Homo sapiens: one gene and its partners. The protein of the gene in region 2 interacts with the protein of the main gene of each other region in a biochemical or structural test. Each region holds a gene or a part of one and is shown on either strand. Other genes may lie near its edges.

What was found. Proteins that work in one complex are often made in the same cells at the same time.
Region 1: the proteins of TEC (region 2) and LRRK1 form a complex in vitro, tested with the Homo sapiens proteins (one large-scale study listed by BioGRID).
Region 3: of the proteins of TEC (region 2) and PTPRC, one has a biochemical effect on the other in vitro, tested with the Homo sapiens proteins (one large-scale study listed by IntAct).
Region 4: the proteins of TEC (region 2) and MET form a complex in vitro, tested with the Homo sapiens proteins (one large-scale study listed by BioGRID and IntAct).

Annotation. Positions count from the first base shown.
Region 1 is NC_000015.10:101,069,357-101,073,688, forward strand, and holds part of LRRK1 (leucine-rich repeat serine/threonine-protein kinase 1), read left to right. Parts: 3' UTR 1-4,332.
Region 2 is NC_000004.12:48,259,199-48,264,361, forward strand, and holds part of TEC (tyrosine-protein kinase Tec), read right to left. Parts: intron 1-5,163.
Region 3 is NC_000001.11:198,712,040-198,716,371, forward strand, and holds part of PTPRC (receptor-type tyrosine-protein phosphatase C isoform 1 precursor), read left to right. Parts: intron 1-913; coding exon 914-1,033; intron 1,034-4,332. UniProt on the Homo sapiens protein: Protein tyrosine-protein phosphatase required for T-cell activation through the antigen receptor. Acts as a positive regulator of T-cell coactivation upon binding to DPP4.
Region 4 is NC_000007.14:116,752,196-116,756,527, forward strand, and holds part of MET (hepatocyte growth factor receptor isoform b preproprotein), read left to right. Parts: intron 1-3,159; coding exon 3,160-3,320; intron 3,321-4,332. UniProt on the Homo sapiens protein: Receptor tyrosine kinase that transduces signals from the extracellular matrix into the cytoplasm by binding to hepatocyte growth factor/HGF ligand. Regulates many physiological processes including proliferation, scattering, morphogenesis and survival.

The sequences.
Region 1 (4,332 bases), on a different chromosome or scaffold from region 2:
GGCCTGGGCCAGCTTGGGCAAGCCAAGATCAGATGTCTCTGTGTTCGGGAAGGTCTCCGTGTGGGAAAGCCCTTGGGGGATCCCGGGTGAGGAGTGTTGCCCCATCCAGAGAATGAATGAGTTCCTTTAAGTGCCACCGCCAGCAAGCCCAGAGGCACACAGTCCGAGTGCACCCGCTTAGCCTTTACATTCCTCTCCACCGACAAAAGGAAGGGGAAACTCAATCAGCAGGACTTCAGAAAGGGCCTTGTGTTTATAGCTTTGTCAAGTAAATTTGGACGCAGCTGGAGCACAGGCCCTGTTTGTTTGCACATAATAATCTTGTTTATCACTTTAAAAAATTCAGTAATATCTCAGCAGTCAGGCTTCTGGTTGTGAAATCACATTGTATGGGATTTATACCAAATTATGTATTTGCTAAACATTCACTGCACACGTGTACAGCGGAGTACGAAAAGGAACGTTGTCCACAGGGGATTTATGGATACAACAGCAAACATTTTATAAACTATGCACATGCATTACACACATGCACACACATATGCACACACATGTGCAAACATAGCCACTTTTTTGTCAAGAGTTACCCTTTGGGGCTCCTTAAACCAGAATGGGAGTTTGAAAGAGAGATCATACTCCAGCTGAAGTTTGTTGACCCTTTTCTAAAATTAAAAAGATCAAATTTAGTATTTGCTGGATATGCAGGGAGATGAGACTCTTTTAATCTCAAAATAAACAGATTCTTTCAAGAACGAAGCTGTGGCCTCTGTCTTTTGAGCGCTTATGACCACAGCACGGGCTCAGTCCCTCCCAGACCCACTCGCTGTCTGGGGATAATGGGCAGCCCCTCCTTGCCCACTGTGCCAACATGCAGGTGGCCCCTGAGCAGCTTCCATGGGTGGAGACGCTGCTCTGTCAGTCACAGGCTTGGAAAAAGCGAGTCCCCCCACTCTTTTTTTTTTTTTTTTTTTTTTTTTTACCAACCTGGGCACCAAGTCCCAGGGGGCTGAGGGTCTGTGCTTCCTGTCTACCTCCCTGCCATTCTCTCACCCTCATCCCACAGCAGGGTCTCAGGAGTCCCACTCTCCCTCTCCTCTCATTCCAGTGCCCCACAACTGCCCAGTTAACCCCCAGATGCAAGCCAGATTCCATCTGCCCCAGGCCCCAAGCTTTTGCTTTGGCATCACGCGAGGCCAGGCTGCTTTGCAGGCACCAAAATTCACCCTCTCCTACTCCTGGAAAAGCCCAGCCCCAGGCCTCACAGAGCCAGGGGAGGGGATCTCATCACATCACAGTTAGAAATCATACAGGCCTAAAGTCCCAGCTACCCAGGAGCCAAGGCAGGAGGAACCCTTGAGCCTGGGAGTTGGAGGTTACAGTGAGCTATGATCACACCAGCTTTCTAGCCTGGGTGACAGAGCAAGACCCAACTCTTAAAAAAAAAAAAAAAATACAGGAAATGACTAATGAACTTGACTCCATGAAATTGAAACTTACGTGGAAAATTAGTCCAAAGCCTAAAAGACTAGCAACTGAGAAAAAAAAACATTGCAACACAAATGAGAGACAAAGACCTCACTTATCTTCATTACAGAGAGTTCGTAATGTCAATAAGAAACAGAAAACCGGAAAGGCAAACAGGTTAAGGGCATGGGCAGCAATTGAATTACAAAGAAACAGACAGACCCTTAAACATCAATGCTTGACCTCACCCAACAGCAGGGAAACAGTCTCCACAACAGTAAAATGTTGCTGGGATGGGCCCAGCATTCAGCATGGTCCCTGCAACTTTGGCCTCTGCCCAGTGACCTCTGGCGGGTGTAGAAGAGCTCATGCTTCAGTGAGGGGGTGGGGGGCACCCTGAGGACCCTGTCAACATCAGCTGGACCACAGGCATCTCAGATAGATGTCACTTACCACCCTCATGTTGGCAGAGGGTGGTAACCAGCCAGCATCTCCTTCTTAAACACCTACTAAGTGTCAGGCACTGTGACCGGAGACACAGTCAAGAATCTCTGTGTTTTTTTTGTTTTGTTTTGTTTTTGTTTTTTGAGACGGAGTCTCGCTCTGTTGCCCAGGCTGGAGTGCAATGGCGCGATCTCAGCTCACTGCCACCTCCGCCTCCCAGGTTCAAGCAATTCTCCTGCCTCAGCCTCCCGAGTAGCTGCGATTACAGGCGTGCACCACAATGCCTGGATAATTTTTGTATTTTCAGTAGAAACGGGGTTTCACCATGTTGGCCAGGATGGTCTTGAACTCCTGAGCTCAGGTGATCCGCCCGCCTCATCCTCCCAAAGTGCTGGGATTACAGGTGTGAGCTACCTGCGCTGGCCGAATCTCTGCTTTTAGGAGCTCACTCCTCATAGGTAGAGTTGACAATAAGCACACAAACAAGTGAGATAGCAGGGCAGCCGGACCACCCAGTTGGGCAATTCGTGGCTTGGCCTAGGAACGTTACATTTGACTGAGGCTGGCGAGGCCTGCAGCCTGCACCAGGAGGTACAATGTGAGACTGAGGAATGGGAAGAAGGCATTCCATGGAGCTCTGAGGGCACTGGGTGCAAGGGCCTTGCACATGCAAAGACCCTGTTGTGGGTTCAAGCCACTGTGTGGGAGGGACAGGAGAGCCTGGCGTGGCTGCGGCCTTGAAGGAGGGGACTGTGCACACAGAATTGCAAGTGGGGGTCTCCGCGGAAGCTCCTGGCAGTTTTAAGCAGGATTATTAGATGATTCAGTCAACTTTACAACTCACTTTGCTGAATGGAGGGTGGATTAACGAGGGGGTAGTTGGAGGCTACCCCTTGGAGGGCATTCTGGACTTATCTACCAAAATTTCAAATGCACATACCCTCTGACCCAGCAGTTCCACTTAAGTATTTGGTCCTGAAATCTTGGTAAAAGTGCCCAAAGATACAGAACAAGGATGTTCACTATAGCATCTCTTAGAATATGGCCCCAAACAGGAAGCAACCCCAACCTCTATCATGAGGGAGGTCATAAAATTCCTGCACATGCAACAGTGCCATCCTCTGCAGCCTGTCAAAGAGGCAGGCAGCACTAACTGCTGGACTGGAATGTTCTCCAAGATATAATAAATGCATTTGTTTGAAAGCAGCTTGCAGCACAGTGCGTCAGGCCTCTGAGCCCAAGCCAAGCCATCGCATCCCCTGTGACTTGCACGTATATGCCTAGATGGCCTGAAGTAACTGAAGAATCACAAAAGAAGTGAATATGCCCTGCCCCGCCTTAACTGATGACATTCCACCACAAAAGAAGTGAAAAAGGCCGGTCCTTGACTTAACTGATGACATTATCTTATGAAATTCCTTCTCCTGGCTCATCCTGGCTCAAAAAGCTCCCCCACTGAGCACGTTGCCACCCCCACTCCTGCCCGCCAGAGAACAAACCCCCTTTTTCCTTTACCTACCCAAATCTTATAAAACGGCCTCACGCCTATCTCCCTTCACTGACTCCCTTTTCGGACTCAGCCCACCTGCGCCCAGGTGAAATAAACAGCCTTGTTGCTCACACAAAGCCTGTTTGGTGGTCTCTTCACATGGACGTGCATTAAATTTGGTGCCGTAACTGGCGCGGGGGGAGGGGGGGGGGAACCTCCCTTGGGAGATCAATCCCCTGTCCTCCTGCTCTTTGGTCCATGAGAAAGATCCACCTACAACCTCAAGTCCTCAGACCAACCAGCCCAAGAAACATCTCACCAATTTCAAATCCAGTAAGCAGCCTCTTTTTACTCTCTTCTCCAACCTCCCTCACTATCCCTCAACCTCTTTCTCCTTTCAATCTTGGCGCCACACTTCAATTTCTCCCTTCTCTTAACTTCAATTCCTTTCATTTTCTGGTAGAGATAAAGGAGACACGTTTTATCCGTGGACCCAAAACTCCAGCGCCGGTCACGGACTGGGAAGGCAGCCTTCCCTTGGTGTTTAATCATTGCAGGGACACCTCTCTGATTATTCACCCAGGTTTCAGAGGTGTCAGACCACGCAGGGACGCCTGCCTTGGTCCTTCACCCTTAGCGGCAAGTCCCGCTTTTCTGGGGAATGGGCAAGGACCCCAACCCCTTCTCTCCGTGTCTCTACCCCTTCTCCGCCTTTCTGGGGGGCAAGAAACCCCCAACCCCTTCTCCTTCACCCTGAGCGGCAAGTCCCGCTTTTCTAGAGGAGGAGCAAGTACTCCAACCTCATATCTCTGCGCCCCAATCCCTTATTTCTGTGCCCCAACCTCTTATCTCTGTGCCCCAATCCCTTATTTCCATGCCCCCACCTCTTATATCTCTGCACCTTGATCCCTTATTTCCACATCCCGACCTCGTAT
Region 2 (5,163 bases):
TCATTATAGTTTGTTGAATAGATGCAAAACCTGAAGCACAGGAAAATAATTCCAGTTAATAGTTAACTTAGAAATCCATGCAAGGTAATGAAACAATATGTATAAAAACCCCTGTGACTCATGTTTGCCTACGTAACAAACCTTCACATGTACCCCCAAACCTAAAATAAAAGAAAAAAGAAATCCACCCAAGGCTTTAAACATTAGACCATGATATCTAGAAAGATGACAAAGGGGCTGGGCGCAGTGGCTCATGCCTGTAATCCCAGCACTTTGGGAGGCTGAAGCTGGCAGATCACTTGAGGTCAGGAGTTCGAGACCAGCCTGGCCAACGTGGCAAAAGCTCACCTCTACTAAAAATACAAAAAATAGCCGGGCGTGGTGGCACATGCCTATAGTCCCAGTTATTCAGGAGGCTGAGGCATGAGAATCTCCTAAACCCAGGAGGTGAAGATTGCAGTGAGTCGAGATCATGCCACTGTACTCCAGCCAGGGTGACAAAGTGAGACTTTGTCTCAAAAAAAAAAAAAAAAGAAAGATGTCAAAAGAAAAATCTGAACAGGAGCTCACTCTGCTGTAGTTCTTTATCAAGAAACTACATTAATGCAAAATTCTCTAACATTGCTGGTTGCCTTGCACACCTTACTGGGCCATGATTACTCAAGCAGTAGAGAAATGGCACAATGGATAGGAAGGCTGGAGTTTCCTGAGGACATAAGATGCCTTCCCGGGTCACACAAAGTTTCATAAACTCTAGACCAGGTACTGAGGTCAAATGTCATTGCACAGTTACATAACAACTCTTCCATGTTTTGTTACTGATCCTTGGAAAGTTTTCCTATAGACATCCAATAAGATGAAATGAGGCTCTACACATTACCAACAAGAACACAGTCTCTGCAAATGACCTGTCAGGTTCTTCTAGTTTTATCTGACCTATAACTGGGTACATAACATGGCCTCAAGCATTCTGGCTCTTCTTGTCCTCACATAACAGAGACACTGTAATTCTAAAAGGTCAAAAAAGAGAAAAAATGGAAACTTCACATTGCTAGTGAGTTATTTTATGACCTTCTAAAACTGATGAATAAAAGCTAGAAATCAGTCAGGTGTGGTGGCTCACACCTGTAATCCTAGAACTTTGGGAGGCCGAGGTGGGAGAATCACTTGAGGCCAGGAGTTCAAGACCAACCTGGCCAACATAGCAAGGCCTCATCGCTGCTTAATTTTCGTTTCAATGAGCTGGATGCAGTCATATGCATCTGCAATCCTAGCTACTCAGGAGGCTGAAGCCAGAGGCTGAAGCTCAAACCTTCTATTTAAGCCCAGGAGTTCGAGGCTGCAGTAATCTATGGTGATGGCACCACTGTGCTCCAGCCTAAGCAACAGAGCAAGACTCTGTCTCTAAAACAAAAAAAAAGAAAAAAAAAATCTAAGTGTCCAACAACTGGGGAGTGGCTCAAAATACCACCGTATGCTAACATGACAGAATTACCCAAAGAAAATTATGCATGGACTAATTACAACGTCATAAAGTAACTACCTGTGTATAAATAAAGATTGTAGAATTTGGAGTTACATAAACAGTTGTAACATAATGCTCCTTAATTATTTTCTAGAACATTGCTAAAGATTTATTAAAAGTCAGCTGGTAATAGAGATGACTGGAAGGGGATTCACAAAGATTCTCTCTGGAATGGTTTTAGGGTTATTTTTAATTTCTTCTTTGTAAGCTTCAGTATTGTTTACATCTTCTAACAAGGAATATATAAAACTCTACAAAATGACAATTTTTTTTTACTGATGGCAAGGAGAGTCCAAGGAGCACACCAGGTGTCTGAGAACCTCGGTGGCACCCAAAGATCAAACTTTTGCCTGGGGGAAGCAAGATGGTGTGTCAACAGCTCTGAGCCTAAAAAATGTCTTCTGGCTAGGACTCCAGAACTTATGAACAAGAATTATTTCATGCAATGCTTCTATAACTGGTTTAAGTATGTGACAAAGACACTGACAATCCTTAAAAAAATTCAAAAGCATGTATACCTAAATTTACATGTCTGACAGCATTCAAACCCAGTTAAATTGTATTTCTGTTTCCCTGCATGGTTGAAGGATCAAGCATTTTTATCACCCAAGCAGGAAAATGAAGAAATCAACTGCCTTCTACAAATCAAAAATAACCCTAATAGTAAAAACTAACTTTGTTGCATGCTTAAATCATATTGGCAGAAAAATGAAACTTTAAATCACTCTTGTAAGAAAAAAAGCCAGTTTCATTTTTGGGGCAGTCATATGGAAATCCCACAAGTCGTGGTTGAAACATAATATTGAGGAGTATGTGAGGACATTAAGAGTTTCTAAGGAAATAGTAACAAAAGATATCATTGGAATTCCATGAAGGATAAGAGAAGAAAAATCAAAGGTTTTTCCTACTAAATCACATTATAATGTCACCAAAATTAAAAATAAAAGGAGTAGGATACTTGACAGGGAGTTTCACCTTGTAAGTATCTCATATAGTACATGACAAGTTAAAGTCTGTCGCTTTGATACTCTATTGTAAGCATTTCAAGGTTAAAAGCTTTAACCTTGAAAAACAAATGACATATAGTTACAAAAGGCAAAAGTATATATTGTAGAAATCCAAACAAAAGTGTTCCTCCTTTAGAAACATAAAACTGATGAGATAACATAATGAATACTTACTTCCCTCCCTCCTCCAAAAGCCATTCTTTGTAGCCATAAAAACTAAGATAATCATAACACTATGCTAAGAAAAAATATACAGATGGAAAATAATGATAATAATGTATGTTGTCCTTTCAAGAATGTTTTCAGTGAAGAATATTTCTAAATAATACAAGAAACAATACACTTGAGAAAACTTAAATTGAATGCTCTATATTTCAATCCATATATAGACAAGTGATGTGAAAGTCTAATCAAGAATTTAGAGAATTTAGATTGTTGAGTACAACTTGGGTAATTGTGACCAAATGTCTCTTTTTTTTTTTTTGAGACGGAGTCTTGCTCTGTTGCCCAGGCTGGAGTGCAGTGGTGCGATCTCAGCTAACTGCAACCTCTGCTACCTGAGTTCAAGAGATTCTCCTGCCTCAGCCTCCCGAGTAGCTGGAATTACAGGCACGTGCCACCAGGCCCACCTAATTTTTGTATTTTTAGTAAAGATGGGGTTTCACCATATTGGCCAGGCTGGTCTTGAACTCCTGACTTCAAGTGATCCACCTGCCTCAGCCTTCCAAAGTGCTAGGATTACAGCCATGAGCCACCACTCTTGGCCCAAATATCATTTTTTCTTAACTATAAAGTGTCCAAAATTGTCTGGAAAATTCATTCAGTATATTAAGTACTTGCTTGGTACTATGCTTTCCCTAGGAAAGAACTTCTGTGAAGACCCAGTACATTACAGAAAAACTATACTGCCTGGAAAAGGGAGGTTCCAATGACTTCAAAGACTTCGTTTAGAAAAGGGAAGGATGCTTGTGGAAGCACAGTGGGAGGAATGAGCTCTGCAGTATCCCTACTAGCCAAGCTTTTGTTCACAATGGTGCCTAGTGGTACCTGCTGAAAAAGCCTTTTTAACCATCTGTCATCCTCCAAAGATAAAGTAATTGTTGCACCCACTCCATTGTCACAATCGCCAGCACTCCTGTTTTCTGTATTGCCAATGCATAGCTGCCATCATGGGAAGATCGAGCTTTGCTTTTTCTGCACAGATAAGATGGCTTAGGAACAATTATCCTCCTACTTTTGTGGAAACTGACTCTTGTCATCATGTGTGTAACCATAAAGAATGTTGATGTTACAAAGCAACTGGGAGAGCATGCTGGAAGTTCACAGCCCATTAAGGGAGCCTGAGGAATGACTCAACTGATGAAATGACGTTGGGAAAGTCGTGATCATCCACAAACGGCAGGGTACATCAGCCCAGCCAGAAACAGGAACTTGGTTCACATTCCAAGGAGGGCACAAGTGGAAAGGGAAGTAAGGGTGCTGCTGCTGGTAAGGCAGTTGTGTGATAAACTGGCCTCCAGAAGGAAATAATGATAACTTCCATTGAGGCCACATGGCCATCAATGACACCAATCCCATCTTTCAGATTAAAATAATATTGGACTTAATAGAAGCTGCACTTCACTGAAAGGTAAAACATTCAGAGGTCAAGATGGCAGAAAGAGTCATCCTACACAAAGTGAATTCAAGAAACAGGAACAATAGGCCAGGCGGTGGCTCACACCTGTAATCTCAGCACTTTGGGAGGCCAAGGCAGGCAGATCACCTGAGGCCAGGAGTTCGAGGCCAGCCTGGCCAACATGGTGAAACCCTGTCTCTACTAAAAATACAAAAATTAGCTGGGTGTGGTGGCGTGCACCTGTAATCCCAGCTACTCGGGAGGCTGACGCAGGAGAATCACTTGAACCCAGGAGCTGAGATCATGCCACTGCACTCCAGTCTGGGTGACAGAGCGAGACTGTCTCCACCCCCGCCAAAAAAAAGAAAAGAAAGAAAGAAAGAAACAGGAACAAGGGCTCTATGCCAGTAATCTACGTACCACCCAACCTAAGATATAGGTTTTGCCCCCTATGACAACTATGATCAATTGGTAGTGTACACTTAGAGTTGTATATGAAGGCATCTGAGGTCCAAACTCGGCTCAGCGGCCCAGCCTGATCCGAAAATGTTTCCTGTGGGTAGAGGAAGGGGAAAACAGCAACACACTGCTATGACTGAATGGTGCCAGTCTCTGGATAGAGATTGGTAAAGAAATTATACTCTAGCCACTATTAGCAGACTGGACAAAAACCTCTACTTTCTCTCCCTTCTGAAAGCCTAAGACAATGACAATAAAGAAATTTTTTTATTTCATGTATAAATCAGCAAGGATGGAGAGAATGAGTGAAGAGACAATAGCAAAAACATTTTGGTGGAATAAGCAGAAGCCAAGAAATAATCTGATTTACACCATGGAATCTCCAAAAGGTTAAATAATTAAAGGCAATTGAACCCTCTATAAAAAGAGGGGTGGGCTAAAAAATTAGTGACTTTTTAAAGTCTTTTTAAAAAGCTGGATCCCACAGATCCCTCTGGCCACTCCAACCAGTTAGGTGACTGCCCCTTCTCTACCCCAGCAAAAAACCTGGAGTT
Region 3 (4,332 bases), on a different chromosome or scaffold from region 2:
TGACAAAGCAGATGCATTCATAGTAGCCAAAACCTGGAAACAGCCCAAATGTGTATTCACTGTTGAATCCTAGGTAAAATGTGGTGTATCTTTACAATAACTACTGATAATTTTTTAAAATTCTAACTATGACACATGCAACTAAGTGAATGAATCTTCAGAACATTACATTGAGTGCAATATGTTAGGAGTGAAAAAGTACTTACTGTTTGTTTCATTTTATTTACATGCAATGGGTAAAAAGACAAACTTAATCTGTAGTTAACAGAAAGTTGATCAGAAGGTACGTGAGTCTGGTCAAAGGAGCTGAGTTGACTGGGAAGTACCACAGAAGGACATTTTGGGATCACAGAAATTTTCTTTATCTTGATTGTGGTGTTGGTTATGTGGATGTATACATTTGTTAAAAATGCATTAAACTGTATCTCAAATGGGTACATTTTAATGTAAATTTTACTTCAGACATTTTATTTAAACATTTATCAGTTTTTCTCAGTTTCAAATGACTAGTTACTGGAAGCAATGACAAGTGCTACTCAATGACTGCTAAATTTATTGGTGCTATGAATGCCAGATTTTTAGCACAGCAAAATCTACAAATTCCAGGATTTTTAGGTAGTATCTGGGCAAGAATATATATGAATAATGTATATGAAAGGAAGAGGGGGTTCTTAGATATCTTCAAGTCAGTGGAATGCTTAGGTTTCACAGTGCCAATCTGGTGTGACATTTACTTTGTTAAAGGAATTTACTCTAAAACAAATTAAATGAGCCCAGATGCATTTCTTTAAATTTTATTTTGAATTCATCATTTGTCAAAATATGGTTATCAATAATGCATGCTTATAATATGAAGAATGCTTTATCCATGTCTTATTTTTCATATTACATAACATTCTTATTCTTTTAACAGGTCCAGGAGAGCCTCAGATTATTTTTTGTAGAAGTGAAGCTGCACATCAAGGAGTAATTACCTGGAATCCCCCTCAAAGATCATTTCATAATTTTACCCTCTGTTATATAAAAGAGACAGGTAATTTGTGTAGAATTTAATTTCATCAGAAAAGAGAAATCAAGAATTTGAAAGTACTAGAAATTTTTATTGAGCCAGTGAGTCACAAAGCTCTCTGCTTAGAGACTGCATAGGCATAGTATACTCCCTGATCTTAGAATTGCTTCCACTCATTCAAAGCTTTCCAGCCCCAGAAATGACTAAAATCCAGAACATTCTAAATATTTGCTTGTCCTTCTTGGTCTTAGTTTAAATCTTTGTGCTCCAAAGCCTAGAGACAGAAAACCTCTGGATGACAACACTCATTTCTGTCTTGCAAGTATTATGTAAGTGATTTGACTCACTTTGAACTCATCATTCAGCCTCCTAAACAAACCAACAAACAAGCAAACCCCTTGTAAAACTTGTTTCAGCTAATAATACAGACAAAATGTTGGGTGAATAAAAATGAACATGGGCCCATGTAGCCGCTGGGGCCAGTTTGGTGTAATCTTGGGAGCATAGTTCTAAGTTTAGAATTAGACTTCTGCAGAAGTAATGCAATTAAAAAAAAAAAGAAGAAGAAAGAAATGTGCTATGACTAGTTCACTCATGAAATGTTCAAATGAGATGCTATTTAAGAGAACAAATATCTTCTGGACAATTTAAAGTATCTAAATTGTTTGTAGAAAGTAACATCAGTGGAGTATCTCAGAGCAGCCTCAATGCCTGGGATAGCCCTTTCTCTATTCTTTTATCCATAGGTTAAAATAGGAATGAAGTGAACCTCATAGAATTCTGTCACTCTGTGCTGTGGGGAAGGAACCAGACATACACTTCAAAACTTGAAAAGTGAAAGGCTATTTTTCTTCATTATGTTATTTTATATTTTAATGGCCTTTTCTTGCTAGTGTCTTTAGGTCTTAATAATCAGACTACTAAAGCAAAGTTAAATATGCATGTAGTTTTCAAATTAACATTCAAAGGCCAAGGAAAATAAATATATACTATATATTTGAGGTTATGATAAATTTAAAAGTTAAGTCTATGTGGAAGGAAAAATGGAAATTCCAGGAAGATAAAACAGCAGAGGTACTGTCTGCCTCATTGGACACCTCTTTTACAAACACTTTGTGTAGCTTCTATGGGAACACATTGTTCATTTTTTTTTTCTCTTCTCTGAATCTTCTATTCACTATCCCTTTCTGCATTCCTCAATGTCTACACTCTCTCTACTAGAGAGTATTGTCGATGTCAGAGTATATGGTAGACATTTTATGCATTTATGGCTCTTTTATATTTTTACAGTTTTTTTAAACTGTATTTCCACTGTATTTGCATAATTAGGGTAAAAAGGATGTAATGAGTTAGTAGCAACTCATTACAGCAACTAGCATGGGTCCTTCTTATTGGGCAACTAAATAGTGTTACCCAAATTTAACAGCTGTCCACATAGAACACTTAAACGGGATTGAATGGCTGAGAAGGGGAGGCTAGCTATCAGGCTGTGTGTTTTCTTTTCTCCAAAGCTGCCGATTGGTGACTGAATGCAGCTTTGGACCATGCCCTGACACTGCATAAAGGGCTCTTTGGAGCCAGCTCTACTCTAAACAGCGTGCTCCGCTTTTGTTTTCTCCTTCATCTCAAACATATACCTGTCTCCTCTCCCATGTTACCTAAGGCAAAGAGAGTTGATAGGATTATAGTATCGTTAAGGCAACTTAACTTTTCTCACCATTTTAAATAAAATTACTATTAAAAATCCACAGGAAGAAAGTCTATGAAATTTGCAGTTTACTTTTTAATCAGATATTAAATTTCACTTCATTACTTCACAATTTAATTTTTTCAGTGTCTCTAAAAGAGAGGGATTAAAAGAGGAGAAAAAATGCAATTGACATTAATTTAGTTTTATTGGTTTAGCAGGTTTTTTTAATTATGTATTATTTAAAGATTTTATCAACTATTTTAATAACTCAGTGGAGATGTGCATACATATCTTCATAGTTCATATGATGAAACTGAGGTTAACAGAAAATGTGATAGATGTTCAAGTTCAGTAGCTTGATCTGTTTCCTTTCTGCTCTTGGTTTTGTTTGTTTGTTTGTTTGAGAGGGAGTCTCCCTCTGTCGCCCAGGCTGGAGTGCAGTCATGCGATCTCGGCTCACTGCAAGCTCCGCCTCCCAGGTTCACGCCATTCTCCCGCCTCAGCCTCCCTAGTAGCTGGGACTACAGGCGCCCGCCACCACGCCCGGCTAATTTTTTTGTATTTTTAGTAGAGACGGGGTTTCACTGTGTTAGCCAGGATAGTCTGGATCTCCTGATCTCGTGTGATCCGATCCGCCCGCCTCGGCCTCCCAAAGTGTGTTTGTTTATTTTTCCTCACATTTTTAGCTTAAGATATTTTGGAGAACTGCAGTTTTATCTCGTTAACTTAATGATGGCAAGTGACAGTGAAGCTTCTTGGTAATTGGGGAATTGGGGAAGAGATCTTTTGTGCTTTATTGGATTTAAAGGATTATTTTTCAAAAGTTACTGAAAGCAATAGGCACCTTTCAAGACCACCATGATGTTGCTGGAAATTATTTTGTGTAATGCCTTTTATTTTTTTAAGAAAAAAAAAACAGAACAAATTGCTTAATCTCTCTGTGGCTCAGTTTTGTCATCTGTAAAATCAGATGATAGTGAGTACCAACTAATAGTTGCAGTGATGGTTAAATTAATTATTTCATGTATACCCCTTGAAACAGTGCTTGGCACATACAGTGAGTTATTATTTTTAAAAATCGTTATTGATATTATTATTACTGTTGCTGCTATCCAGAAACATGTTGCCACTCTAATCATCCTCTTTCCTGATGTCACTTGGCTACTCAAAAATAGCAGCAGCTGGTGATTTTTTTACTTAACAAGTGCTAAGTCTTCTGCCTGAGTGTGAAAACACACTTAGACACTGTCCTACCTCTCATATGCCTCCCCAGCCAGAGCTGTTGTCCTGATCAGGTTTGTCACTAAACTCAAAAACATTCCTTCTTCCGTTTGTAATATTTTCTTTTCTCCCTTACATGTATTCAGTTCCACTTACCTTTCAATGAACAGCTGAATTCCACTTCCGGCATGAAACTCCCTCATTCTCACAGCTCCCGTTAATTACTGTAGTGTCCAAATTACTATGATAGAATCAACCCAATGACTGATGATCAAATGGATTCTGCATCTAACATTCAAAACAGTAGCTAATACCGATGTTCAAAGTTTGGAGGTTACATATCAGAAAAGGTTTTCTAAAAAAGAATCATTCTGAAACATGCAACTCAAGACTTACAGTATACACTGGGGGC
Region 4 (4,332 bases), on a different chromosome or scaffold from region 2:
TATATTTGTGAGTTCTACTAAAGAGGAAAGGAGACCCCTTTTGGAGTTTTTTTGTTCTGTTTTGTTTTTGTTTTTTAGTTTTCTCATGTTTTATCCTAATGGGTTTTGAAAGCATGATCATTTAAAATACTGTTGGAATGGGCCCATCAGTGATGTGATCTTTCACCTGTGAAAAGACAAGGGCTACTTTTGTGGCTGTATCTCCCCTATCCAGACAGGTAGGAGACCCAGCCTCTGTGGCTTTATGCCGGACGCTCATTTCCTGCCCACAGAGTTTCTCTGCCCTTCAGGATAACTCAGAGTTTGCCAGCCATTGTTGGGTCTATCCAAGGGTGTGTAGTTCACAACTGCTTCCTTCCTTTTTCCCTAGAAGGGTAAAGGTTACCCCATAAGCTAAGGGGAAAATGCCCAGCCCAGAGAGAAAAGCTAAGCAGAGCGAGCCTCTTGGATCCTGAGGGTCTAGCAGAGGGCTTATAATATCTCTTCCTATTGCCAGTGCCCCAGTTGCGCAGCTCTCTGCGTCTTTTCTCAAATCATCACCCAATCCGTTTGCCTTTTATAGAAAGTGATGGTAATGATGTGTGTAGAGTGACAGACTTCAGTTTTTACATAGAAAGACGGGATGTAGGCAGTGGGATCAGGCCAACATCAGCCTTGGGCAGCGTTTTCAGTGGGGAAGCCTCCTCATTAGAAGAGCCGGCAGCAGCTGTGTGACTGCCTCAGGCTGAAGAGAGTCCTGGGAGGGTTGGATGTCTTGTTCTCTCCTACTGGATTTCTACCATAATAATAATAAACAGATTTATTTTTCTAGTAGTTCTCATTTGACTAGACATGGATGAGGTAAATTTTCAGGAAAGGCACAACAGTGTAATGGATTTTTATGGGTAAAATGGCTATCATAAAAGCTTTAAGCTAAAACTTTAAAGGGGTTTGATAACGAGGGTACATTAAGACTTTGGTTTGCAATTATTTACTTAGGAAGGATGGAAATGTTTGCAAGTTTGAATTTGGCTAAAAGCCCTTCTTAATTGTAAAAGAATCACTTTTAGATGTTCACAAGCTGAGCTTTAGCAAATACCTTTACTGGTTCTTGAGTTGCCTCTATCTTAGTTTTCCCACCATTGTACTTTACAGCACAATTTACAATATGTCCCCACCCCCAAAAGAGCATTTCCTTTCTCAATTGTCACAAAGCTGCTGAGAAGAAGCTTATTTTTAACTTGGAAATGTGTTTTGTTTTAATAGTTTTAGCCTGAGAGCAATTATCTTACACACTTTATAGGTGCCTAATGCGGTCTTAAATCATGACTGACCAAGGTTTATCAATAAATCCATTGATAACATACCAGAAATGAGTCTGCAATAACAAAATGAGTCTGTTATTTGCTTAACATCAACCATCAGGGGGAAAAATTTAATCCTAAAAATGAGATATAAAACAATACCAATGAAGATAATTAGGAAAAATTGTTACAATACTGATTTTGGGCCCTCTCTGGTTCCGTTTTTATCTATTTCTAAAAGAAACAACATAACACATGTATTAAATATTACATAATTTTTAAAAGGCTGAGTGTGTCAACTAACCAGCCTGGTATACATCAAATAGTGACCATATTTAAAGAACAAGGAAAAATCTTCAGTCATTAATAAATGTGAACTAATAGGTAAAAAGAAGTAGATTCACTTTTCATTTGTTAGTGCCTGGTGCATAGGAGGTGCTTTATTAAGAAATAATTAATGAAACCTGGGCAGCATAACAAGACCCCGTCTCTACAGAAATTTAAAAATTAGCTGGGTGAGGTGGCGCACACCTGTAGTCCTGTCTACTAGAGAGGCTGAGGCGGGAGGATTGCTTGAGCCCAGGAGTTTGAGGCTGCAGTGAGCTAGGACTATGCCACTGCACTGCAGACTGGGCAAGAGTGAGACCCCCATCTCTAAAAGTAAATAAGTAAATAATGAATGAATGAATGAATGAATGAATTATTGGCAGATATGTGTTCCAAAACCATCTATATGTTTCATATTATGCTAGCTGCTGAATGCAACTGGGCAAACACTGGATACCAAATGAGGTATTTTTACTGTGCAACTTTTGTCTCTGGGTGGGGAATACCATAGCAACCAGAATGTAGTGCACGCAGCCAGTGCACAGAGCAAGGCGTATAATGGCTGGACCTTGGCTTATAGAGCACATGAAGGAGTTTGATAAGAGCTCAGTCCGAAGGCTGATGAAGAGTTACAATCAGAGTTATGAGCAAGTAAAAGTCTGGGCCCAACGTGTTTCTACTCCTACCCTAAAGAGCCCTAGAAGATGAATTCACTTCAGAATGGCCCAAAAAGGGCCAGGTCCAATGGCTCATGCTTGTAATCCTAGCACTTTGGGAGGCCAAGGCAGGAGGATCACTTGAGCCCAGGAGTTTGAGACCAGCTGGGCAACGTAGTGAGACCCTGTCTCTAGAAAAAAAAAAAATAGCCAAGCATGGTGGCCCACGCCTGTGATCCCAGCTACTCAGGAGGCTAATGTGGGAGGATTGCTTGAGCTCAAGAGGTTGAGGCTGCAGTGAGCCATGATCACGCCACTGCACTCCAGCCTGAACAACAGAGCCAGACTCTGTCTGAAAAAGAAAAGAAAAGAAAGAAGGAAGAAAGGAAGGGAGGGAAAGAAAAAGAAAGAAAGAGAGAGAGAGAGAAAGAGAGAAAGAAAGAAAGAAAGAAAGAAAGAAAGAAAGAAAGAAAGAAAGAAAGAAAGAAAGAGAAAGAAAGAGAAGGAAGGAAGCAGAGAAAGGAAAGAAAGAAAGAAAGAAAGAAAGAAAGAAAGAAAGAAAGAAAGAAAGAAAGAAAGAAAAGAAAGAAAGAACGGAAGGACTCGAAAAGCCCCTTTATTCCTACCAAGCTGCATCTGCTCTTTGTCCCATCTTTGGATCTCCTGAAAACAACTTGTTTCATTAACATGTCATGTAGTTTTAATGTTTGTTCCAGATGCTCTGAAATTTGTGACCCTTTTCCCTTTAGTGAAAATTAAATTTTTACTAAATTGTGGGAAAATGAAAGAATTTCAGACTATTTAAGGATATACATTTTGTTTGTTCGTTTTCCATATATGTGAAAAATTATAATATATTGGGTTTTTTTAAAAGTTCTATGTTGTCCTTGTAGGTTTTCCCAAATAGTGCACCCCTTGAAGGAGGGACAAGGCTGACCATATGTGGCTGGGACTTTGGATTTCGGAGGAATAATAAATTTGATTTAAAGAAAACTAGAGTTCTCCTTGGAAATGAGAGCTGCACCTTGACTTTAAGTGAGAGCACGATGAATACGTAAGGATCTTAAAATGCTTTGCTGGGGTGTGCTTGGAAAATAGGTTTTGTTTTTGAATGAATATTTCTTTTAAAATTGCTCAAGAAGCTCATCTCTTGAATTAAAAAGGGTCTTGGCCTGTCACATGCCTTGTGGGTCTGTTCTGTTTTGTTCTTGTAATCCCATTTACTCATTGGATTTGAAGAGAGAGAAAGGTGACATGGCCTAGGTGAAGAGAAGAGGCCAGAAATGGGAGTTTCTCAACCATTTATGCGACAAGTCTTCAGGTGTTGTCTGAGTAGATTTGCAAGAGTAGCACTAGTTGGGATCACTTCATCCTTGGAGTCTTCAAATGTAGAGTCTCCAAAGGCTTTTTCTACAGAAATCAGTAAACAGCTCAGCATGGATCCTCTCTTTTAAATTCACTTTCTAAACCTCAGAAATGTAGTGAGGCAGCTGAATCACGTGTTTGAGACTTTTTTAGATGAGTTAAAATTTATATTCAGCTTATATTTACTGGCACTGCAATATATGGGCTGTATCTCACTGAACCATCCCCACGGTCCTGGGAGGGAGCAGTATCATTCCTATAATATAAAAGAGGTACCTGAAGTTCAGAGAGATGAAGTGTGGCTTCACAGAGGTAATCCAGAGAGTAAGAGCTGAACAAGCCTTCAGCTCAGCTCTGATCATCTTCTGATCCAAGACCCGTGCTAGTTCTACTGTATTCTACATGTACCCTTCTACAAGCTTTGAATTCCATAATCATCAGAGAATCCAGAAATTATTCATTATCACATAATAACAACACTCAAATATTTAAAGTTTTATGGTTGAATCTTTATGATTGAACCCATTCTATCAGGTGGTTATTTTATATCTAATAGAATTCATTTCAGGGTTACACAAAGGTCCGAATCTATCCATTTTACTGAGACCAAAACACTAATGAAGGTAATATTTGTTAGCTGAATGGCAAAACAAATTTTTTCTAGAAATCTCCCTTGTAAAATCTCCAAAACTCTTAATCAT